Linked DNA regions of Homo sapiens. The protein of the gene in region 7 interacts with the protein of the main gene of each other region in a biochemical or structural test. Each region holds a gene or a part of one and is shown on either strand. Other genes may lie near its edges. The genes, in order: ZSCAN30, CIT, SIPA1L1, PTTG2, MAP4, LIN7A and DLG4.

Evidence for each region.
Region 1: the proteins of DLG4 (region 7) and ZSCAN30 interact in a test that uses a peptide from one of them, tested with the Homo sapiens proteins (one large-scale study listed by IntAct).
Region 2: the proteins of DLG4 (region 7) and CIT interact in a test that uses a peptide from one of them, tested with the Homo sapiens proteins (one large-scale study listed by IntAct).
Region 3: the proteins of DLG4 (region 7) and SIPA1L1 form a complex in vitro, tested with the Homo sapiens proteins (2 studies listed by BioGRID and IntAct, with this or other methods).
Region 4: the proteins of DLG4 (region 7) and PTTG2 interact in a test that uses a peptide from one of them, tested with the Homo sapiens proteins (one large-scale study listed by IntAct).
Region 5: the proteins of DLG4 (region 7) and MAP4 interact in a test that uses a peptide from one of them, tested with the Homo sapiens proteins (one large-scale study listed by IntAct).
Region 6: the proteins of DLG4 (region 7) and LIN7A form a complex in vitro, tested with the Homo sapiens proteins (one study listed by BioGRID).

Annotation. Positions count from the first base shown.
Region 1 is NC_000018.10:35,283,690-35,287,247, reverse strand, and holds part of ZSCAN30 (zinc finger and SCAN domain-containing protein 30), read left to right. Parts: intron 1-3,558. UniProt on the Homo sapiens protein: May be involved in transcriptional regulation.
Region 2 is NC_000012.12:119,688,815-119,692,372, forward strand, and holds part of CIT (citron Rho-interacting kinase), read right to left. Parts: intron 1,641-3,558; coding exon 1,337-1,640; intron 1-1,336. UniProt on the Homo sapiens protein: Plays a role in cytokinesis. Required for KIF14 localization to the central spindle and midbody. Putative RHO/RAC effector that binds to the GTP-bound forms of RHO and RAC1. It probably binds p21 with a tighter specificity in vivo.
Region 3 is NC_000014.9:71,585,974-71,589,531, reverse strand, and holds part of SIPA1L1 (signal-induced proliferation-associated 1-like protein 1), read right to left. Parts: intron 3,235-3,558; exon of another isoform or gene 2,604-3,234; intron 1,962-2,603; 5' UTR 1,660-1,961; coding exon 162-1,659; intron 1-161.
Region 4 is NC_000004.12:37,959,230-37,961,686, forward strand, and holds PTTG2 (securin-2), read left to right. Parts: upstream 1-1,168; 5' UTR 1,169-1,205; coding exon 1,206-1,781; 3' UTR 1,782-1,899; downstream 1,900-2,457.
Region 5 is NC_000003.12:48,009,892-48,013,449, reverse strand, and holds part of MAP4 (microtubule-associated protein 4), read left to right. Parts: intron 1-3,558. UniProt on the Homo sapiens protein: Non-neuronal microtubule-associated protein. Promotes microtubule assembly.
Region 6 is NC_000012.12:80,843,933-80,847,490, reverse strand, and holds part of LIN7A (protein lin-7 homolog A), read left to right. Parts: intron 1-1,551; coding exon 1,552-1,761; intron 1,762-3,558. UniProt on the Homo sapiens protein: Plays a role in establishing and maintaining the asymmetric distribution of channels and receptors at the plasma membrane of polarized cells.
Region 7 is NC_000017.11:7,197,082-7,200,639, reverse strand, and holds part of DLG4 (disks large homolog 4), read left to right. Parts: intron 1-3,558. UniProt on the Homo sapiens protein: Postsynaptic scaffolding protein that plays a critical role in synaptogenesis and synaptic plasticity by providing a platform for the postsynaptic clustering of crucial synaptic proteins.

The DNA.
Region 1 (3,558 bases), on a different chromosome or scaffold from region 7:
CAATATGGGGAGAATTGACATGTTAAAGCAATATTGAGTCATCTGATCCATGAACACAATATTTTTCTCAATTTATTTAGGTCTTCCTTAATATCTCTCACCAATATTTTATAGTTCTTTTTAATATTTTACAGATCTTTCATAACTTTTGACAGATCTATTCCTAAGTATTTAATATATTTTGATGCTATTGTATTTTTCCTTTAATTTCAGATTGTTTGTTGGTAATATAATAGAGAAATACAATTGATTTTTGTATATTAATCTTGTATCTTGCAACTTTGTTAAATTCATTTATTAGTTCTAGTAGCTGTTTTTGTAGATTCTATCAGATATTCTACATATGAGATCAGTTTTACTCCTTCCTTTCCAATCTGGATGCCTTTCTTATTTTCAGCGCAGTAAGGCAGGCAAAGGGAGGTGGAGAAAGGCATTCAGATTGGAAAAGAAGAAGTAAAATTGATCTTTATGTATATCAGTGTTCGGTAGAAATGAAGAAAGGGGAAATCTTTGTCTTTTTTCCAATCTTAAGTGAAGATCTTTGTCTTTTTTTTTAATCTTAAGCATCCTTTCTCTGTTAAGCATGATGTTAGCTGTGGTTTTTTTTATTGGTACCCTTTAACAGACTGAGGAAGTTTTTTTCTAATTCTAGTTTGGTGAGAATTTATATCAGGAATGTAGGATGGATTTTGTCAATTGCCTTTTCTGTATCTTTTGAGAAGACAGTTTGTTAATATGGTGATTTACAATGATTGATTTTTGAACATTAAACCAAACCTGCATTCCTGTAAAAAACCCTGCTTCACTGTGATGTATTATCCTTTTTATATATTGTTGGATTTTTCATGAAGAATATTGGCCTATAGTTTTCTTGTAATGTCGTTGTCTAGTTTTGGGATCAAGGTAACGTGGGCCTCAAAGAATGATTCAAAAAGCATCCCATTGTCTTCAGTATTGTTGAAGAGTTTGTACAGAATTGGTATTATTTCTTCCTTAAATATTTGGCAGAATTCACAGTGAACCTATCTGGACCTAGAGTTTTTTTGTGGGAAGGTTTTAAATTACAAATTCAGTTTCTTTAATAGATATGGTGCTATTCAGGTTATATATTTCTTATAGGGTAAGCTTTAGTATTTTGTATCATTTAAAGAATCAGCCAATTTTGTATAAGTTGGCATAAAGTTGTTTATAATATTACTTTGTCCTTTTTGTATCTGTTGAATCTGCAGTGATGTTACCTCTTTCATTCTTGCTATTAGTAATTTGTATCTTCTCCCATTTCCCCTTGTCGGATAGGCCAGAGCTTTGTCATTTTTATCTTTACAGAGAACCAGCTTTTCATTTATTTAAAAATTGTCTTTCATTTTCTGGTCTATTAATGTCCACTCTGTTCCTTATTATTTCCTTTTTTCTCCTTGCTTTGGGTTTAACTTGCTTTTTTTTTTCTGGTTACTTTAAGTGGAAGTTGAGGCCTCTGATTTGTAATATTTCTTATTTTGTGTTATAGAAATTTGGTGCTATAAATTTTCCCCTAAGTACTGCCTTAGCAGCATCTCACAAATTCTGATGTGTTGTCTTTTTATTTTCATTCAGTTCAGAATACTTTGAACTTGGATTATTTCAGTTTCTAAATATTTGGGGGGTTTCTAGAGATTTTTCTGATATTTATTTCTAATTTAATTTTATTGTAGTCAAAGAACATACTGTGTATGACTTGAATCCTTTAAAATCTATTGAGACTCATTAATGGCCCAAAACATGGTCTGTCTTCATAAATGTTCCATGCACATTTGAGAAGGATATATTAATATATTCTGCTGCTGTTGGGTTGACTATTTGATTATTGTTAGTTGGTTAATGGTATTACTGAAGTTTACTATATACTTTGCTGATTTTCTACTAATTTTAAAAGTAATTATTGAAAGATGAGTATTGAATTCTCTGTCAATAATTGTGGTTTTGTCTATTCTCCTTGTGATTCTATCAGTTTTAATTTTATGTATTTTGAAGCTCACAATTTGCATAAATGTTTAGGATTGTTATTCCTTTTCCTTTTTCTCTTTTTTTGAGATGGAGTCTCTCACTCTGTTGCCCAGGCTGGAGTGTTGTTGATGGCAACAGTGGGCCATCTGGACCATCTGGAGTGGCCACTGCCAAGATGCTGGCTGCAGCCAGGAGGCTCTGCCCATGCTGTGAGCTTCACAGAGCCAGAGGGAGCGGGGACAAGCAGGAGCCCAGCTCCTTCCAAGTTGGCGGGTGGGAGCTCCCCAGGCATAGCTGCAGCTGCCCAAGTCATGGCTGCTGGCTGAGCCTCCCTGTGTTCTTGGAGACCAGGAGCAGGCAGGAGCCCTGCTCTCCTGGGTGCAACTGCAGCCACCCAAGTCCTTGCTACAGACCGTGTTCTTGGAGGCTGGGAGCAGGCAGGAGTGCCAAAGCAGGCAGGAGTGCTGGAGCAGGCATGAGCCCTTCCTGCATCCCCCACCTCCTTTGTGCAGCTGTAGCCACCCAGGTTGTGGCTGCGGACCAACCTGGATATCTCTGCACTCTAGGGGCCTGGGAAGGCACCCCCACCTCAGCAGGCTTGGAGGTATCTGCTTCTGCTGCCTGGCCTCTCCCTGCTCCTGGTGACTGCTCTGATCTAGGAGCAAGGTTGGGGCCGAGCCAGGGTGCTGTTGCAGCCCAGCCAGTTGTGCGCATACTTGAGGCAGTGCTGACAGGCCATTCCTCTGCTGCTTCAGCCCCCTCCAGACTTTGGGTGCTGACAAACATAGAAGGGAGGCTGAGGGAAGGCTGAAGGCAGTTCAGCATTTGCCTGCAGGTGCTTGTCCCCACGAACAGCCTGGGCACCATAGAAAGCAGTAGGAGGCGACATGCTCTGAGGCAGAAAGGGGCGGGTCCCCAGAAGGCCTGAAGCCTAATGGCCAGGCCACCAGTCCCCCTGACTGGAGGGGGAACTGGTGGTGCTTTTTCTTGGACCTGCCCATGGCCACCAATGGACCAATCAGCATGCACTTCTTCCTCTCTGAGGCCCATAAAATTCCCTGGACTCAGCCAGACTGGGGGAGAAGACCTGCCAGCAGAGAGGAGCTACCTACTCCAGGGCCTCTTTTCTGCTGAGAGCTGCAGAGACAACAGGAGGACCAACCTGCAGAGAGGAGCTACCCACTTCAGGGCCTCCTCTTTGCTGACAGCTGCAGCGATGATGGGACAAGCTGCCTGCAGAGAGGAGCTACCCACTCCAGGGTCTCCTCTGAGCTATTCTGTTGCTCAGTAAAGCTCCTCCTTCTCAGTAAAGCTCCTCTTCACTTTGCTCAGCCTCCACTTGTCTACATACCTCATTCTATCTGGATGCAGGACAAGAACTTGAGACCTGCTGAATGGTGGGGCTGAAAGAGCTGTAACACAAACAGAGCTGAAACATGCCCCTTGCTCACCACATTGCAGGCAAAGAGGAGAGAAGAGCTGTGGCCCTTCAGGAAGCCCAGACCAGGAAGCTCCCTGAGCCAGGATTGTGACTCCCGTTGGGGCCCTGCATTTCCTGGAGTCTCCAAGCTTCTG
Region 2 (3,558 bases), on a different chromosome or scaffold from region 7:
GCAACCACTGTGAACACTTTCTGTGTAGCCTTCCAGAAAAACAATTTATATATACACATGTGTGGGCTGAGCGTGGTGACTCACGCCTGTAATCCCAGCATTTTGGGAGGCCAAGGTGGGAGGATTGCTTGAGCCCAGGAGTTCAAGACCAGCCTGGGCAACATAGCGACATTATGTCTCTAAAAAAAATAAAAAGGGCCGGGGGTGGGGGTGGGAATCAGACAGATGGTGGCTTGAGCCTGTAGTCGCAGCTATTCAGGAGGCTGAGGCTGGAGGATCACTTGAGCCCAGAAGTTCAAGGCCGTGGTGAGCTATGATCACACCACTGCACTCCAGCCTGGGCAACATAGTAAGACCCTGTCTCTAAAACAAAACAAAACAAACAAACAAACAAACAAACAAAAAGTGGGGGAAAAAGTTAGCCAGACATGGTAGCTACAGCCCATATTCCCAGCTACTCAGGAGGCTGAAGTGAGAGGATCACTTGAGCCCAGGAGTTTGAGGCTGCCGTGAGCTATAATCACGCCACTGCACTCCAGCCTGGGGTAACAGAGCAAGACGCTGTCTCTCAAAAGAAAAAAAAAAAAAGAAAAGCATATGTGTGTATGTGTGTGAATCTATATCTATGTTTGAAAAAAGCATGCAACATTTCATATAGGATGCTATCATTTGGGTTTCAAAAGGAGAGCACACATATATATTTGCTGGTACGCACAGAATATCTCTAGAAACTGCTACCACTTGCCTCTGGAGAAGGGAAAACATTTTTTGGTAGCTATTATATTTTGAGTTACATGCATACATATTTTCCTTTTCAATTACACACACGTTATCCATTTGCTTAGGAAGCTCTTTTTTTTTTTTTTTTTTTTTTTTTTTTTAAGACAGAGTCTCGCTCTGTCACCCAGGCTGGAGTGCAGTGGCGCGATCTCGGCTCACTGCAAGCTCCGCCCTCCGGGTTCACGCCATTCTCCCGCCTCAGCCTCCCAAGTAGCTGGGACTACAGGCACCAGCCACCACACCCGGCTAATTTTTTGTATTTTTTTCGTAGAGACGGGGTTTCACCACATTAGCCAGGATGGTCTCGATTTCCTGACCTCGTGATCCACCCGCCTCGGCCTCCCAAAGTGCTGGGATTGCAGGCGTGAGCCACCACGCCCGGCCAGGAAGCTATTTCTTAAGGTACATTTTCTTCCTAAATTCCTGTGTCTCGCAAAGTCTGAATTACAGTCATGGAGTTCCTTTTTTAAACAACAGTGGCCCCGTGGGGGCCTCAGTTCCCCAAGTCACTCCTGGCCTCCGCAACAGACACACAGGCCTCGGAATGCTGCCTCACCTTGTTCACCTGGGACAGCGGGGTCCTCACGGCTCCCGCAGGCAGCCGGCCCCTGCTGCTGTCTTCAAACAGCCTCCCGGGGGACCGCTCTCTCCGCGTGCTGAGCATCCGGCCGGGGGACTTCTCTCGCTCCAGGGGGCGGCCAGGAGACTTGTCCCTGCGCAGCTCGGTCCGCCCCTCGCGGTAGCGGTGGGGTGTGCTTGGCTCTCGCGGGTGGCTGGGGCCTTCGGGCGGCGCTGGGCTGGAGGCCACGCGCTTGGTGATGTGCTCGTTGTACGTGGGTGGGCCTCGCTTGTTGGGGCTGCTGGCGACACAAGAGGAACGTAGGGAGCTGCGAGGCCACAACCCCAGAGGGGCATTTTCCTTCTTACCTGAGCAACCCCCTCCTTGACCCAGCCTCACCACTGATTATCAAGAGATTAGACCTGGAGTTCTTTGGACTTTGCCTGCATTTGATTTTGGTAGCAAAGACAGGGAAGAGAGCAAAGATGGCAACAAAAGACAACCCACCTTCCTCAGTGCAGGCTTTCATTTACTGAGCACCTACTGTGTGCCAGGCCTGTGCTAAGTTCTTCATCTGCCATCTCTCATTATCTCATTAAATCATCACAGCAGCTCCTGAGCTATGAACAAGCATGACCCTCACTGTACAGGCAAGAAAATGGGGACAGACAGGAGTTAGGTGACTTGCCTGAGCTAATGAGTGGTAGAGCTGGGATTCCAATAAAGACCAGTTTGATAGGCCAGGCGCAGTGGCGCACACCTGTAATCCCAGCACTTTGGGAGGCCGAGGCAGGTAGATCACGAGGTCAGGAGATCGAGGCCAGCCTGGCCAACATGGTGAAACCCCGTCTCTACTAAAAATACAAAAATTAGCCGGGCGTGTTGGCGTGTGCCTGTAGTCCCAGCTACTCAGGAGGCTGAGGCAGGAGAATTGCTTGAACTGGGGAGGCGGAGGTTGCAGTGAGCCAAGATCGGACCACTGCACTCCAGCCTAAGTGACAGAGCAAGACTCCGTCTCAAAAAAAAAAAAAAAAAAAAAAGACCAGTTTGATGTCATAAGCCCCATATAATATCCTACTGACCTACTATTTCCCAGAGCCTAGAAGGCACAGAAGGAAGTCATCAACTAGGAGGTCAGCCTACTAAGACCCAGAAGTCAGGGACCCACAAAGGCCCTCAGTGCAAGGAAGCAGTTTGGAGAAACCCTGTACTGATCACTGTTAACTGCCATGTCTGTCCCACTCCTGGGCCTCGTGTTTGGTCACCTCTGCCCCCATGTGGCTTTCCAAGAGTCTCTGACACCTGATGCAAATGCAGATGCTCAGAAGGTGGATGGTTCTCAGTCATGACAATAAGACGACCGAGAGGTGTAGGGATCAGGCCTGATAGAGTCAGGAAACTGAGCAGGGCAGACAAAGTAAAGCGGGCTCAGAAAACGTCCCAGGCCTCAAAGGTTGATAATTAGTAACCAAGCAGTTGAAAACACTGCGGCCTTTTTGTACAACCCAACCCAATCCTCCACCCACTCCTGGCCTGGATATTTCAAATGAAGATTTCAGCAGACCCAGGGGCCAAACTCCCTCTCTGAAGATGTAGTAAGACCTACAAACACAGAGAGAACTGAAATGTGGCCTTCTGAGTCAATTCTTTCCCACCCTTGATCAGCTCTAAAAGTACTAGGGTCCCTATTATCTCAGCATAATTTGTGCTTGGAAAAGGCCCTACTTAAAATGGAGGAAAAAAATTACAGTGAATATTACTTGAAAACATATTTTGTTTGATTGAGGCTTTATCTTGGAATATAAACTTATTTTATGCTAGATATTTTTAGTATTTAAATTACAATGCAATTACATGCTGATTCCAAAAATGAACCAAGCATGAATCACAGAATGATTTGTTTTGTGCTAATTGTCTCAACAAAATTGCTGCTAACATGCTCTGACACCAACGTTGGACACATTGGACTTTTGCAGTGGATCCTAAAGAAGGCTCTTCAAAAATATTTGAAAAAGCCGGGCACAGTGATGCATGCCTGTAGTCCTAGCTATTAGGAAGGCTAAGGAAGGAGAATTGCTTGAGCCCAGGAGTTCAAGACCAGCCCGGGCAATATGGCAAGACCCCGCTTCTAAAAAACTAAAACTAAAAATTAAAACAAGAAAAGTGTTTTCCCAAAGGACTATCTTAATCCTTGATATTTAAATCCTTCTCATTGGAAG
Region 3 (3,558 bases), on a different chromosome or scaffold from region 7:
AAGAAATAAATTGAGCAAATGGTTATTTAGCTATTTTACCATCAAGAAAGATAAGACATGCAAATCTTATGTCACATTGTTAATAAATATCTTAATATACAGTACTTTTCTTCAGAAAGTACTGCAAAAGAAAATGTAAGAAATAAAGGATCTCTACTTACCCTTCTGGTAGAAAAATTTTCTATAATAGTATGCACCCAGATCTACGTGTTCCACGATGTATCTTTTCACTCTATCTAGGTGCAACACCAAGTTCTCCTTGGGCACTTCAAGTACTGCCACTCCTGCATTTGTGCAATGGGAACTAAGGGTAGACTCAAAGGAGGCACTTTCACATCCACTAAAGGAGCCAGAATTTGATTTTGAAAGGCTGATTTTCCTCTCCCCTTCTCCACCTATCTCATTCCGAAAATATGGACAGCTCATTACAAGCTCATTGCTTTTATCATCTCCCTGGTCCATGCTGAGGCTTCCTTTGGAATTCAGGTCCTCTGTGCTGCCCATTGGGGAGCTAAAACTGGCTGAATGAGACAGAGGTCCAGAGACCAAGGATGCCACGGCAGCTGCGGAAGCTCCAGTGGTGGTGTTTCTCCTCTTAATAACATTGTGCCTGTTCATAATTGCCTCATTCAAATCAAATAATATACTCTGGACATCATAGTGGGCAAAGCACTTTGGACATGTCCAGGGCCTGACAGAGTCTTCTGATCGGTTATCTTCAAGATCTGATGACTTCCCAAGTTCTTCACCTTTGGCATTGCGCAATTTACGAAAAATAGATGAGTCTCCAGTTTCAGATTTTGAACGTCGCTTGAGTGGTTTTTCCCTTTCCTTAAAAAGCCTGAGGTTCTCTCTCTGTGAGATAGGCCCGTCTATTACATCCAAAGAGAAACCAGAACCCTTGCCACCACCAGTAATGAGAAAGTCACTGAGCTTGGTTGGAGTTGGACCTCGATCAGATTTGTCATCTTTGTAGCCCTTTAACAAATCAAAAAAGCTTTCTCCAGATGTTCCCTGTTTATCAATTGAAGATGTGCTACCATATTCCCTGTGCAGTGATGGTCCAGTCTTGTATGTAGGTGAGATACATTCATCAAAGCTATCCACATCAAGTTCACTTATGGTGATATCACTGTTGCTTCGCTGGCGTATTCTGCGAAGAGCTTTTCTGGGGGAGCTGGGGTAGGCTTCAGGCATGAGAAATCTGGAGTCCATGTTCTCCGACGGTCTTGTCTTGTTTTTCAGCGTGTTCTGTATGCTTTTCAGCATGGCTGAGTCATTGGAATTGAGGCTAACAGAACTTCCCTGACTCACAGGACTGCTTTTGGAGGACAGGCTATCAAGGCAACTTGAGGTTTCTATTTCCTGGCTTGAACGGCTAGATTCTTTTATGTTTTCCTTTCTTGGGGGCCAATCTGCAATCCTTGCCCTTACCCCCATTTTTGGGACTCCGGGGGTTGAGGTTATATGGTGAGAACCTTCACTTCGGGGGGGTCCTACAGGAGCCATAACTGATGATCCTAAGCTGCCATTTTGGGACCGGAAGCGCCGCATGTAGAAATCATCAGTGTGGACTTTGGGGGTGCCGTCTGTGCCAACAACAGAGGCCCTGTCAGTGGCAAGAGGCCTTTCTGTCTGTGACCGTTTCAAGCTGGTCATGATGTAAAAGCAAGTAGACTTAAATCCCTGCAGCAAGGACCATCATATCTGTGTTTTAAATGTGCACTTCCCTTTTGGAGAATGGCTTCCAGAAAATACAACAGTTGCATGAGATCTTAATCTTTTTCATTTAAAAGGTTAAATGATGCTTTATTTGTAAAGCACTGAAAAATTGGAACTTCTAAACGTTATAATCCACAACAGTTTCTTTGCTTCACTTTAACAGAGGGCTTTCTTTCAGAAAAAACTGAATGGAACTTGTACTACTGAGATTCTGTGGTTGCCATAATCCCATGCTTTCTCTAAAAGAGAAAAGGATAATTTGAATTAGCAGATAAATACATCTAAAAACAAACATGCAATTGTCAAAACCAGACACATGAAGATAAAAGACTCAATAATGGATTAGGATTCACAGTTCCACAATCCGTATTTTTAGTAAAGCAGGTTTGAAAGAAAGGAAGAAAGTAAAAACCATTTGATAAAATCCATAATTTATATTCTAAAAAAAAAAACTATTAAGACTTCATCTTAATTGAACTGTTTCATAAAATGGGGGGCAGGGGGAGGGGTACATCTTGTTCTGGATATCATGGCTCCTACCCAAAGTACAGACTTTTGCTCCAATGACCTCTAAAAATGTAGAACATCATGAGCTACTGTGATGACCAGAAGTTTGAGATGTAACCAAGTGAATAAGATAATTAGAGCAACAGAGTTTTTTGACAAAAGTAAAAACTGAAAAATGACTTTACTGAATATGCTGCAACAATCACTTTTTAACTCCTCTATTCCAAAATCAATACATGTTTTTTGTTTCCTTACAAAGGCTTAACATAGTTGGCAAAAACAAATACAGCAGGAAAAAATAAATAAAAAGAGTTTTCCCAGAGCCATTATATCCATTAGCACTCTTTTGTATTTTCCTCTACTTTATTACTTACCGAGACGAGGATATTGCAGAATGAATCCAGCATTCACCACCACCTCTTCCCAAGCTCTCCTTAGTTTCTTGTACTCTTAAAAGCTAGAAGTATCTCACTAATGAACAAAATGCCTGCATTTCCTCATGCAGTACAACCTACTCCACCCCATCAGTGCTAATTTATGAAGACGGCAGAAACAAAACACAGCTCTGGGTGGCCCTCTCCATATCCCCAACAGATTACAGAGAACTGTTAGCATCCTTCCAGGTGACGGGCATGGAAACAAACTTCCTCATGAGCACGTCAGGCAGAAGGCAGGAGACACAGATTCTGAGTACAAAATTCTGCATGGTTGCGTACATTCTGAAAAGAAAGGCAGAGGCTCCTTTTCCAAGACTCCACAAATTACACAAGAGGTGGCCTTTAAATTCTTGCCAAATACATGTTTGGAAAGATGCTGCTGAACCAGCACTGAGCTGACAGGGCGGCATTGTCTACAAATCACGGCTCTGACACCGGAGGACGACCTGCACTTGCTGCACTCTCCACTCAATGGTAACAAGCACCTACTTCCACGATAATTAAGCATCTCCCTAGTCGGCTTCCTGCCTCCAAGGCAGGCGCTTTCATTTCTCTTGCAGCACACAGCATCACTTTAGAAGACTCGCTGCTATTTAAAGGCTGGAACATGTAGGGGTGTTTCAAAAAAAAAAAAAAAAAATGCATGCTGCCTGCAGAATGCAGGGTGAGGCGAGCTCTGGCTGGGCTCGTGCTGGCTGAGTCTGTGGAGCCATTCAGATAAATGCCATTTGTTTTCACTAGCACTCCTCTTCACCATCTTTTGTAAAAGGGATAATAGTTTTGCACTGCTACCTAATTAAACATGGCTTTTGAGCTTTCTAGATACTTCTACTGTCAGACTGCTATTATTCCCTTTACATTCCAGAACTTTACATGTTCCTCTTTCAATGAT
Region 4 (2,457 bases), on a different chromosome or scaffold from region 7:
TAACCGATAGTCTTCCGTTGACCTCACCAATAACACAGTCGACTAACATATATTTCGTATGTTTTATGCACTATATCCTGTATTCTCACAATAAAGTAAGCTGAAGAAAATGTTATTAAGAAAAATCATAAGGAAGAGAACATATTGCATTATTCATTAAGTAGAAATAGATCATCATACAGGTCTTCACCCTCATTGTCTTCACGTTGAATAGGCTGAGGAGGAGGAGGAAGAGGAGGGGTTGGTCTTGCAGTCTCAGAGGTGGCAGCCGCAGAAGAAAATCTGAGAACAAGTGGATCCATGCGACTCAATCCTGTATTGTTCAAGACTCAACTGTATATTTTTGCATATGGGCTCAAATACGTACGCACATATGTCACTGGGTCAAAGATTCATAGAATGAATTAGACAACAAGAATATTTATCATTGAATTGAAATGGCTCACTGCAAAAGTGCCCTCAACTTATCTCTAGGCCTTAGAAACAGAAGTGACCCTTTGCTGCTGTGAATCAATAGCCTGGACTAGATTGGGGTTGGGTTGGCAAAGGTATATAGTCATTGCCATAGTCCAGTATTCCTGCCCAAGCAAGCACCATTAGTAGTCACGTTGCTCAGAGAGGGCCTCTCGGCTCTCCCCACCACTGCATGCTGGATTGTCTGCCACCAGTAGATCAGAGTTGGCAAAAGGGATAACTCGGGATGAAACATTTGAGCATTTTGCAGTTTAGAGAAACTTCAGGGGTGCTGCTTTAGTAAAAAATGGAAGACTTGCATTTATTAAAGGTTAGTAAGAAGTGAAATAATGTATGCAAAAGTACATTATAAATTAGAAAATGCAATAACGGCAGAAACTATTTATTTATTGGTTGCTCTGCCCTTTACCTAAGTGGTTTTTGACCATTTAACAATGTGTAAGAGTTGGGTTTTACCTCCATTTTATGGATGTGGAAATAGGGCTTGGATGTTAGCTAACTTGCCCAAATCTTACAGCTAACAGAAAGTGGTACTCCCGAGATTCCTACCCAGGTTTGTCTGACCTCAGGCCTGTGCTCTTTATATGAGTTCATGCTAACTCTCAGATGATGTGCTAGGCACAAAAATTAGATATTACACCAATTTCCACTATAGTTAACATTCTATCTAAATATAAAGTGGGACCACGGTCTTAGATGAATGTGGCTGTTGAGAGCGGCAATAATCCAGAATGGCTACTCTGATCTACGTTGATAAGGAAATTGGAGAACCAGGCACCCGTGTGGCTGCCAAGGATGTGCTGAAGCTGGAGTCTAGACCTTCAATCAAAGCATTAGATGGGATATCTCAAGTTTTAACACGACGTTTTGGCAAAACATACGATGCTCCATCAGCCTTACCTAAAGCTACCAGAAAGGCTTTGGGCACTGTCAACAGAGCTACAGAAAAGTCAGTAAAGACCAATGGACCCAGAAAACAAAAACAGCCAAGCTTTTCTGCCAAAAAGATGACCGAGAAGACTGTTAAAACAAAAAGTTCTGTTCCTGCCTCAGATGACGCCTATCCAGAAATAGAAAAATTCTTTCCCTTCAATCTTCTAGACTTTGAGAGTTTTGACCTGCCTGAAGAGCGCCAGATTGCACACCTCCCCTTGAGTGGAGTGCCTCTCATGATCCTTGATGAGGAGGGAGAGCTTGAAAAGCTGTTTCAGCTGGGCCCCCCTTCACCTGTGAAAATGCCCTCTCCACCATGGGAATGCAATCTGTTTGCAGTCTCCTTCAAGCATTCTGTCGACCCTGGATGTTGAATTGCCAGCTGTTTGCTATGACATAGATATTTAAATTTCTTAGTGCTTTGGAGTTTGTGTGTACTTGTATTAATAAAGCATTATTTGTTTAACAACATAATAAATACATAAATATAAAGTGGGTCATATTCCTCTTTATGTGCATCTGTCTCAGCTGTCCCTTGTTTCTATATTTCTTCCATACTACAGCCCGTACTCTTTGGGGATATGTCAACATGATTTACTTCTGTAGAGAAACAGGAGACAGGAAATAGCAAAGGATAAAGGAGAAAAGGCCAGGGCCAGGCCAAGAACTTCTACATCTTTTCTTCCCAGCCTAGTGTGAACCAGATGAAAGCCTTAAGGAGGTCCTAGCAGCAAAGGGAGATAATTAAAAGAATGAGAATTTTGTGGAATGCTAAAAAAAAATAGGGAACATATTTGCAGCTAGGACTAACACTGATTATCTTAAAATGTCTATATGGCTAAATAATGTTCATGAAATCCCGTATCTTATTCTGCTAATGTCTTACAACTTAAAGCACTTTTATGTCCATGCCTTGAATTCTGTACAAAGCTTTGATAGAGTCACAGATGTCTGGTGTCAATCCAGATCACCTGAGAGGCTTCAGGGTTTCCTCTCTGGTTCCTGAATTCCAAGACTTAGTGAGTTTCCTAGGCCAGGAGCTGCTATTCA
Region 5 (3,558 bases), on a different chromosome or scaffold from region 7:
TCAGTAAAGCATACAGACTTCTGTACCCAGCTTTCAAATTCTCTTGACTCTTACTCACAAATCTATTTAAAGTTAACTTTATTATCTGTATGGATAGAAGAGGAATAGTATAAATGGTCAATTGGTCAGTGAGAGGTTTTTTTTTTAGAGTAAATGCTTCTCATTCACAAGGGTTCATTTTTTGATCCTCCTGAACATCCAGATTTGAAAATAATAGTGTCATATCCTTTTATCCATAAAATATGTAACTAAGCATTTAAGGCATAACCGAATAGTAAGTAACTTCAAGTGATTCTGTGTGAGATGAAATTCATACATGAATTTATTAAAATTAATTTTGGAATACTTGAACCAGTTTAACATCTATAGAGCATTTAAAGAGTGTATTGTACTTATACATGTTTCAGAATAAAATAACTATAAAATTGGATAATCGCTTTAATTTATTGAAAACTGGGGATTTCTGGGAAAAAAAAAACAACAGTACTTTAACTTGAAAGATGACACTAGCATTACCTTTCTAGGATCATTTTCCATAAGGGGGTGTGTGTGTGTATTTTAAAATCATATTCTATTTATGTGGTGACAAGTAAAGAATAGCTTAACTGTTGATGAAATACAGATGCTAAGTGGCTAGCTAGATGTGCTCATAGCTTCATGACCTTCCCACTTTCCAATTGTATAATTTTCTATCAGTTTTACCCTCTTAGGCTGAATTTCAGCTACTGTTCATATTCCATGAACCACATGCAGCCCAGGAAGTCATCTGAGAGTGTGTGGCTGGGGGCGGGGTGGGGGTGCTGAGGGTTGGATAGGGGAAAGATTACAATGGATAAAAGCTGCCCTTTGATAATCTGCATTCTGATAAATGATATTTAAAATGTATTGGTGTTTTTGACTGTATTTTTACCCTGTGCCTTAAATGAGGAAAAGATTTGAGTAGATTGCATCTTATGTCATTATGTATTTCTGGGGAAAATTAAATTTTGGATTTTTATGGTATGTTGTTAAGGATGGCACAGATGTCCTTTTAAGTTCTCTTTGACCATGAAACTGATGCAGGATTTTTGCTCCTTAGCTCAACTAGGTCCAGGTTCTTATCTCAGGAGCGGAAGAATTAGGCACGTGGACATCAAAGAGTGAGTGGAGTAGAATCTATTAATCGAAAGGAAAGCTCTTAGCAAAAAGAGAGAACATGGTAGGTGGTTCTACTACCTGAAGACAGGAAAGTTCCGTAATATGGCTGAGCCTGGGGCTCTTTATTGGTTCAGAATGGGAGTGTGTGGTCATTGGTTTGTGAGTATGCAAAAAAGGTCAAAGCGAAGACACCACTCCAAGGTGGGCAGGACAGTGTAGAAAACCAATTAGGAAAGGGTAGGTACAGGTTAAATAGGTGAAGGATGGGGATCAATCATGCCAAACGGGAAGGCAGGTTCTTAATCCGATCTCAGGATTTACCCAGGACAGTTTCCGGATTAAAGTTCGGGTTTCACTGAGGACCCGCCCCTGTCTGCCTAGACATTTGTTTGCCTCTTGCCTCTATCAAAACTAGTTACAGACGTCCTTTTTAGTTTTTGGTTCATAACAGCTCCCAAAGGATAACTACTAATAATAGTTGTCAGAGATAGAATAGGGAAATGGCATAACCGAATAGTAAAAGCAACTGAATAGTTGCTTTTCATGGAACCCTTTGACATTATAATCTGTTAGGCTTTTAAAAGCTCTTTAATGAACTCATTTCTCAGCATTTTCCCTGTCATGATCTGGAGTTACAATAATACTTTATATGTAAAGTAGGCTGGACGAGCATAGAATAGGGCTTCCCACCCACATTCGTCTGTTGTAAATGGGTCACAGGTGTGCCACTACTACTATAGGAACTTTTTTTTTTTTTTTTGAGACGGAGTCTTGCTCTGTTACGTAGGCTGGAGTGCAGTGGCGTGATCTTGGCTCACTGCAGCCTCCACCTCCTGGGTTCAAGCAATTTTCCTGCCTCAGCCTCCTGAGTAGCTGGGATTACAGGTGCATACCATCTAAATAATAAAAATCAGTGCCCAGCTAGTTATTCTGTTTTTGTATTTTTAGTAGAGATAGGGTTTTACTGTGTTGGCCAGGCTGGTCTCAATCTCCTGGCTTCAAGTGATCCACCCGCCTTGGCCTCCCAAAGTGCTGGGAGATTACAGGCTGGGATTACCAAGTCCAGTTCCTACTATAGGAACCATTGAATTCCTATTTATGGTTCCTTCAGAAAAGCTGCTAAATCCTGAATTCGGCAGTGGTTATTCAAATAGTGGAATTTATAATTCCAGTAGTGTGAGATGGCATTTGCTGTGGACAACAGCTCTGTCATGCCACAGGAGCCCCTTTGGCAGCAAAGCTATCAGTTTTTGTCACGAGCCCCACACTACTTGTTTTAGTCAGGATTCTCTTAGAGGGACAGAACTAATAGGATATATCTCCAAAGGAGAGTTTATTAAGTATTGATTTACGTGATCACAAGGTCCCACAGTAGGCTGTCTGCAAGCTGAGAAGCAAGGAGAGCCAATCCGAGTCCCCAAAATGAAGAACTTGGAGTCCGATGTTCGAGGGCAGGAAGCATCCAGCACGGGAGAAAGATATAGGCTGGGAGGCTAGGCCCATCTCTTCATGTTTTTCTTCCTGCTCTATATTCGCTGGTGGCTGATTAGATGGTGCCCACCCAGTTAAGGGTGGGTCTGCCTTCCCCAGCCCACTGACTCAAATGTTAATCTCCTTTGGCAACACCCTCACAGATACACCCAGGATCAATATTGCATCCTTCAGTCCAATCAAGTTGACAGTATTAACATTACAAGTCCACTCCTTGTCAACTTGAACCCATATACATCTGAGATCGTATGTAATCTTAAAATAAAGACAATAATAAGGTCATAATTACACCTAATGTAATAAAACTATCCTTCATACAACCAGAAACACACCAATCCCCAACCCAAATACTATTACATAAAGTTAATAATACTTAAATGCTGTTATGAAATCAATAAATCTTATGTCACATGATAAAGGAAAAGGAAATATAAAGTGAAGATATTAGTACATGTGTATACATACACAAACATGTTTTTAACAAATGAAGGAGGAAATACTCATGGCAGTTACAGTCCTCATTTCTGCAGCTGGTCACGTGGTCATAGCTGGTATTGATGACTACCTTCTTCTACCCATTCTGTATTAACTTTGCCTTCCCCAAATACCTCAGCAGGTCATGGGTTTTTTTCCTGGTGGAGTGATCCAAACCTTCATTCCTGAATGGTCCGGATCATTTGTAGTCCTGCCTGGATTTGGCTGTTGTGGTTTTGCATTGACAGTAATCACAGGGCATGGTAATACGAAGAGATGCCCTAATGGGTCTCATGTATTCCATGCATACTCTTCCTTACTTCCGTTGTGAAGTTGTAGACTGATTTCATCTTGATAGTCTGGGTCAGTCACCTTAGCCAACACTGTAACTCCCCCTCTGAGCCTGTTGACTTAAAGGGAGGAGGAGCCCAAAGTGTCCAGGTGACAATCTTAACT
Region 6 (3,558 bases), on a different chromosome or scaffold from region 7:
TTTTCCATTTAATTATTTTGTGTTACATCAACGCTTGTTTAGTTTCTCTCTTGATTTTTTAGTTTTTACTCTGTAACTGAACACTGTAGATTTGTAAGGTTTTTTTGTTTTGTTTTGTTTTGTTTAAACTCAGGGAAAAAAAGAGGGTGTTATTATCATCATGTCATGCTTTGCTTGTACTGAAGTGGAACACACACAGAAAAATGATCCCTACGTGGTTTAATTAAGGGGAAAGTGAATTGTGTAGTGTTTTACCATTCTCATTTCTTATTCATGTAGAACAGCAGGATAGCAGCATAATGTTGCAATAGCACAGTATTTTCTGGTTGTTTCTGGGCTGTCTGCATTGCATCCATGTCAGCCATTAAAATCTATGCATGACAATGAGGTTTGCATGAGCAAATGCATGTAGCTAAAAACAAGCCATTGTTTTCATGTCATTCACTATCTTTCACTAAATGCAGACAGTAGCATAATGCTAAATTGATGTGATAATGCTGTGTGTGGAAAAGAAGGTACAGTCGTTGGGAATAAATATTTTCACAGTGTTGAGTAAGTCACTTTATAGCAGGCATCTAATCAACTGTGATCAAGGTGAATTAATAAAAGTGAAAAATAAGCAGGCACAGAATCATTTCTTGATAGAAACTACCTAAGTGCTGTTATTTTATTTCTATGGGGTTAGTGGGAACTAATGGTAAGTTGTTTTCTTGAACTCATTTAATGAAATCAGTACATGAATTTTAAAACAAATTATGTCCATATTAAATGATGTTTTGTATATCTAGGTATAAAATCATTGACTTCATATTGCCTATTTTGTTATAATAATTGAAATATTAATGTATAATATAGGAAGAAAAATCCTGTTCCAGATAAGATTTCTCAGTATGGAATAATAATATGGTATATTGGTATAAGCTAACAATAATCTGTTTGAATCTATTATTTTATTTTAGTTTTCATTCTCTTTAAGGCATCCTTAATTTTTTAAAAAAGTTAAATTTGCTAAGCTTTTGGGTTGGCAATAGCAAGATTACATATGTATTCAAAAGTATGTATACATACAAGTGCTCTTCAATTTATTAAAAAAATACTTATGAACTTTTATGTGCAAGCACCAGATTAGACTCTGTGTCATACAAAAGAGTGCAAGACGCCATCTCTGCTCTTAAGGTGCTCATAGTCAACACATGTATAAAATAATTATAATAGTAGATAGTACATATAACAAAGTTATTTGGACTCCAGGAATAGGAAGAATTGCAGCTAACCAAGGTAACTGGAAAGGATTTTTATGAAGACAGGAAAATTCTGTCATAACAGATAAGCCCTAGGAAGCTGGAAATAGATGAGTGGGACTTTACCAAAGAAAGAAATCCTAGATGGCATCTAAATGAAGAAAGTCCTCTGCTTTTTGTGTTCTTTCTTTCACAGGAGAATACTATAAAAATATGAGAAGTTGCCTGAGCTACCCACTGCAAAGCATATGATTAGCCTTTATTTCCCTCATTTTATTACCAAAAGACCATCTTTTTTTTTTTTTTTCAGGCAACAGTTGCAGCTTTTGCAGCTAGTGAAGGCCACTCCCACCCTCGAGTAGTTGAACTGCCAAAGACTGATGAAGGCCTTGGTTTTAATGTGATGGGAGGAAAGGAGCAAAATTCCCCCATTTATATCTCTCGCATAATTCCTGGAGGGGTGGCTGAAAGACACGGAGGCCTCAAAAGAGGAGACCAGCTGCTATCAGTGAACGGAGTGGTATGTTTATAAAATAACCAGAGATTTTCTCCTTAAGCACATTCTTTTTTTTTGCCCCCTGCTATTACTGAAGTCAACGTTGAAAACCTAGAATAAATATTCATTTTATGTCTAACCAGCTTTCTAAGCATTGATGGATATTAAACCTATAAAAGCTGCAATCTAATTTTTATGTCTCATTTCATTATGTTCAGTTATGATAAATATCAGTGAGTTGAAAAAACATCCCAGGAAATTAATCCAACTAGCTGACTTTCTTCCCATAATACTCCAAGTAACATTTACAAGAATACAGTAATTTCAAGATACTTTTTATCCTAAGTTACTATAAGCAAATACATACATTTTAAGAATAAAGATATAGCTCCTTACTTTGTAATGTGTGTGGGTTTTTCATTTTAATTACAGAGGAAGGGTAATTTTAATGTTTATGTAATAATAACACATATGAAAAAGGCTAATGCACTCAAAATTTTTTTTTTTTTTTTTTTTTGAGATGGAATCTCACACTGTCCCCCAGGCTGGAGTGCAGTGGTGCCATCTCAGCTCACTGCAAGCTCCGCCTCCCGGGTTCACACCATTCTGCTGCCTCAGCCTCCCAAGTAGCTGGGACTACAGGCGCCCGCCACCAAGCCCGGTTAATTTTTGTATTTTTAGTAGAGATGAGGTTTCACCATGTTAGCCAGGATTGTCTCAATCTCCTGATCTCGTGATCCGCCTGCCTCGGCCTCCCAAAGTGCTGGGATTACAGGCGTGAACCATCGCGCCCGGCCTCAAAATTCTTGAAGCCAGATCTACAGCTATAGTATAATAAAAACATATTAGCCTTCCTCCAAAAAAGAGTTTGATTAAATTACCTATTCATAATATATGCTTTCGTTTTTAAATGAAATTAGAGTAAATTAAAATATGTAACATTTTAAAGTAAAAGTATGAATATACATTTTCTCATAACATATTCTCTGGATGCCACCACTTCCACTTGTAATAAGGAGTTGCTAAAGAAATTGTTTCCTATGAAACAAACATTTTCTCCCTATAACATCCACTTATATTAAACATAAATTACCTAAAAGCATACATTTCAGAAATATAAACAGAAACTTATCAATGTTACCTTTCGATTAACCTAAGATCTTTTTTCTAAGAACTTAAGGATTTTAATATATAAACTCGATTTCAGTTATTTGTGGCCAGATTGATTTATGCTTGGGACACAATATCCAAAATCAAATGTAATTGGAACATGATATTTTATTGGTAACTGTAGAATGAAATTCTTCTGTATTCATATCTTGAATTTTATTCATTTGTTTCTTATTTTTAGACTGACTAGTAGTTTCATAGAACCCAAAACTATTCCTTCAACTCTGCTGTCCTCTAATGTATATCAAAATTCTCAACCCATGAATATTTTCTATCACTTCAGCATTCCAATTACTACTTACTTTTTTCTATGTAATAATGTTTTGAGATAAGCTTTTTATTGACCTTTAGATAACTGTGACTTTTTCAAAGCATGTTTCAAGTGATAATTTCAGAGTCTAACTTTCTGGTAGAGGACTCTAGAGCTAGGTCACACAATTGCGTCACATAGAGGCTTATGCCCCAGAGTATGAACTTGCAATTTCTCTGAATATATTATATAAATCAAATAAGGTATAGATTTAAAAACAGTATGAAAAGTTTAAAAAATTTCAAAGTATATTAACAGTAATTATAATTGTGTAAAGTAAGAATATATATATATATAATAAATTTAATACGTGGTTGACTTTGAGCTTTCTTATAAGGGAG
Region 7 (3,558 bases):
GGGAGGCGGAGGTTGCGGCGAGCTGAGATCGCGCCATTGCACTCCAGCCTGGGCAACAAGAGTGAAACTCTGTCTCAAAAAACGACAAAAAAAAAAAGGAATGTGGCTATTTGTAAGATAAATAACAGGAATTAGTAACTTCCCAGCAATAAGAAAATGTAGTGAATAAAAAGCCCCCTTTTGCCATAGAAAAAATTTCTATAAAATTATTAGAAATAGAAACTTGACAAGAAATGTAAGATTTGTATGAAGAAAATGACAAAACTTTACTGAAAGACATAAAACAAGACTGGAAGGGGTGAGGAGTCACACCGTGTCTCTGGATGGAAAAACTTAATATGCTAAAGATCTCAACCGGCTCCAAATTAATCTACATTCCATTCAATCCTAATCAGAATTTTAATGTTGTTTCCCTACTGGGAACTTGGAAGGTTGACACTAAAGTTTGACTGGAAAAATTTGTGTGGAAAAGCTAAGACATTTTGGAAACAAATAATGAGGTGTGGCAGCCCCTACAAAATATGAAATAATACTGTAAAACCATATTAAAATCATGTGGTACTATTCCTAAATACCATAACCTAACAAAAGGAACCTGGGCTCCTTGGAAGAAGGGTCAATTTAAAATCTTTTTTTTTCTTTTCTTTTTTTTTTTTTTTTGAGACGGAGTCTCGCTCTGTCGCCCAGGCTGGAGTGCAGTGGCACGATCTTGGCTCACTGCAAGCTCCGCCTCCCGGGTTCATGCCATTCTCCTGCCTCAGCCTCCCGAGTAGCTGGGACTACAGGTGCCCACCACCACGCCTGGCTAATTTTTTTGTATATTTTAGTAGAGATGGGGTTTCACCGTGATAGCCAGGATGGTCTTGATCTCCTGACCTCATGATCCCCCCACCTCGGCCTCCCAAAGTGCTGGGATTACAGGCCTGAGCCACCGTGCCCAGCCAATTTAAAATCTTTGGCAATAAATCTGTAAGATGAGCTTCTAACTTCTTTCATACTAGAGAGCAAGGAAGGTATCCAGGACTAATAGGGTCTCAGCAAAGACACAGGATCCAAACTGAAGGTGCTTCTACTGTCCAGTGAAAACTCGTTAAATATATTAAAATCTTTAAGATCATAATAATACTTAAAAATATTTTGGCTGGGCGCGGTGGCTCATGCCTGTAATCTCAGCACTTTGGGAGGTTGAGGCAGGCGGATCACCTGAGGTCAGGAGTTCGAGACCAGCCCGCCCAACATGGCGAAACCCCGTCTCTACTAAAAATACAAAAAATTAGCCAGGCGTGGTGGTGGGTGCCTGTAATCCTAGCTGCTGGAGAGGTTGAGGTGGGAGAATCCCTTGAACCTGGGAGGCAGAGGTTGCAGTGAGCCAAGATCGCACCACTGCACACCAGCCTGGGCGACAAGAGTGAAACTCCATCCCAAAAAAATAAATAATTAAAAAAAAAATTGGAGGATGCTAGGCAATCTCATTCATTCTGAAATTGGTGAATGAATGGAAAGAGGCATGCAGAGAGAGGCATGCATTTATCCTCCCTTTCATGTACCAGCTACCTCAGAGAGTAACCAACAGGTTGACATAGGGCTGTTTTTTTGTTTTTGTTTTTGCTTTTTTTTTGTTGGAGGCAGGTCTTGCTTTGTCACCCAGCAGGCTGGAGTGCAGTGGTGTGATCTTGGCTCACTGCAACTTCCGCCTCCTGGGCTCAAGCGATCCTCCCACCTCAGCCTCCCGAGTAGCTGGGATTACAGGCGAGTGCCATCATGCTCAGCTAACTTTTTTTTTTTTTTTTTTGAGATGGAGTCTCACTCTGTCACCCAGGCTGGAGTGCAGTGGCACGATCTTGGCTCACTGCAACCTCTGCCGCCCGGGTTCCAGCAATTCTCCTGCCTCAGCCTCCCGAGTAGCTGGGATTACAGGGCCCTGCCACTGCGCCCAGCTAATTTTTGTACTTTTAGTACAGATGGGATTTCACCATCTTGGCCAGGCTGGTTTTGAACTCCTGACCTTGTGATCCACCTGCCTCGGCCTCCCAAAGTGCTGGGATTACAGGCGTGAGCCACTGCGCCCAGCCTCAGCTAACTTTCAACTTTTGTCTTTTGTAGAGATAGGGTTTCACCATGTTACCCAAGCTGGAGGAATTTTTTTTTTTTTTTTTTGAGAGGGAGTCTCGCTCTGTCACCCAGGCTGGAGTGCAGTGGCACAATCTTGGCTCCTTGCAACCTCCGCCTCCTGGGTTCAAGCAATTCTCCTGCCTCAGCCTCCCGAGTACCTGAGATTATAGACGTAAGCCAGCACGCCCAGCCTATTTTTGTATTTTTAGTAGAGACGGGATTTCACCATGTTAGCCAGGCTGGTCTCAAAGTCTTAACCTCAAGTGATCTGCCTGCCTTGGCCTCCACAGTGCTGGGATTACAGGCATGAGCCATCGTGCCTGGTCGAGATTTTTCTTTTTTACAGAAGAATTCCCACTAGTAAATGACAATCACCACCATTTTGCAGTCCTTGATACTTATCAGAACCAGGCGGTGATTGTCAGTGTGGCTAAAACTTACCTGAAAGGCTGATGGGGCGCTAGATAATGGATGGACTGGGCTGATGACCCTGAACCTACCATTAATCTTACCTGACAGAAAGACAACCAGGCATTATTGCATCCTGTGGTGATGCTGTAGGAAGAACGTAGCGCTACCTATGAAGTATACAGGAGTTACTAAAAAAAACTCTGAATTGAACTTGAAACTGATCAAGCCTCCAGAATGAACTGCCAGTTTACAGGAGATACAGGGGCAGAGGCATAGGCTAAACAAACCACAGGAGGGTAAGCAGTAATTTCCCTGTTAGAATTTCCCTCATAGGCTGGTCAAGGTGGCTCATGCCTGTAATCCCAGCACTTTGGGAGGCATAAGCGGGTGGATCATTTGAGTTCAGAAGTTCCAGACCAGCCTGGACAACATGGTGAAACACTGTCTCTACTAAAAATACAAAAATTAGCTGGGCATGGTGGCGCGCGCCTGTAATCCCAGCTACTTGGGAGGCTGAGGCATGAGAATCACTTGAACCTGGGAGGCAGAGGCTGCAGTGAGCCAAGATCACGGCACTGCACTCCAGCCTGAGACTCCTTCTCAAAAAAACCCCAAAAAAACAAAAGAATTTCCCTCATAGAATGTGGGAAATTCTTTTAGACAAATGACCTAGTTTTTTCAACGAATGGATGGCAGAGAGGTGGGGGGAAAAAAGAGGGAGAAGAATTTTATGGATTAAGAGATTCGAGTGACACAGGAACCCAGAGAAAACCCCCAAAGCGTAATATTAATGCTCCCTTTGACTTCCCCATCCCTGGCATACTGAGGACATATAACGTTCAAATCCTTTATCCCCTAGGACAACCAGCCTCTGATGTCACCTATAAATTCCTGACCCCTGATGTCACTGTGATCTGATATCCCCTTACCACCCCACCCTGGCATCTCTGGCAGAATATCTTCCCTTCCACCTAACTTTGGCTCTTCTGGCACCCTGGGGAGAAGGTTGGGTGGCGGGTGCTGTTTCCCTCCAGG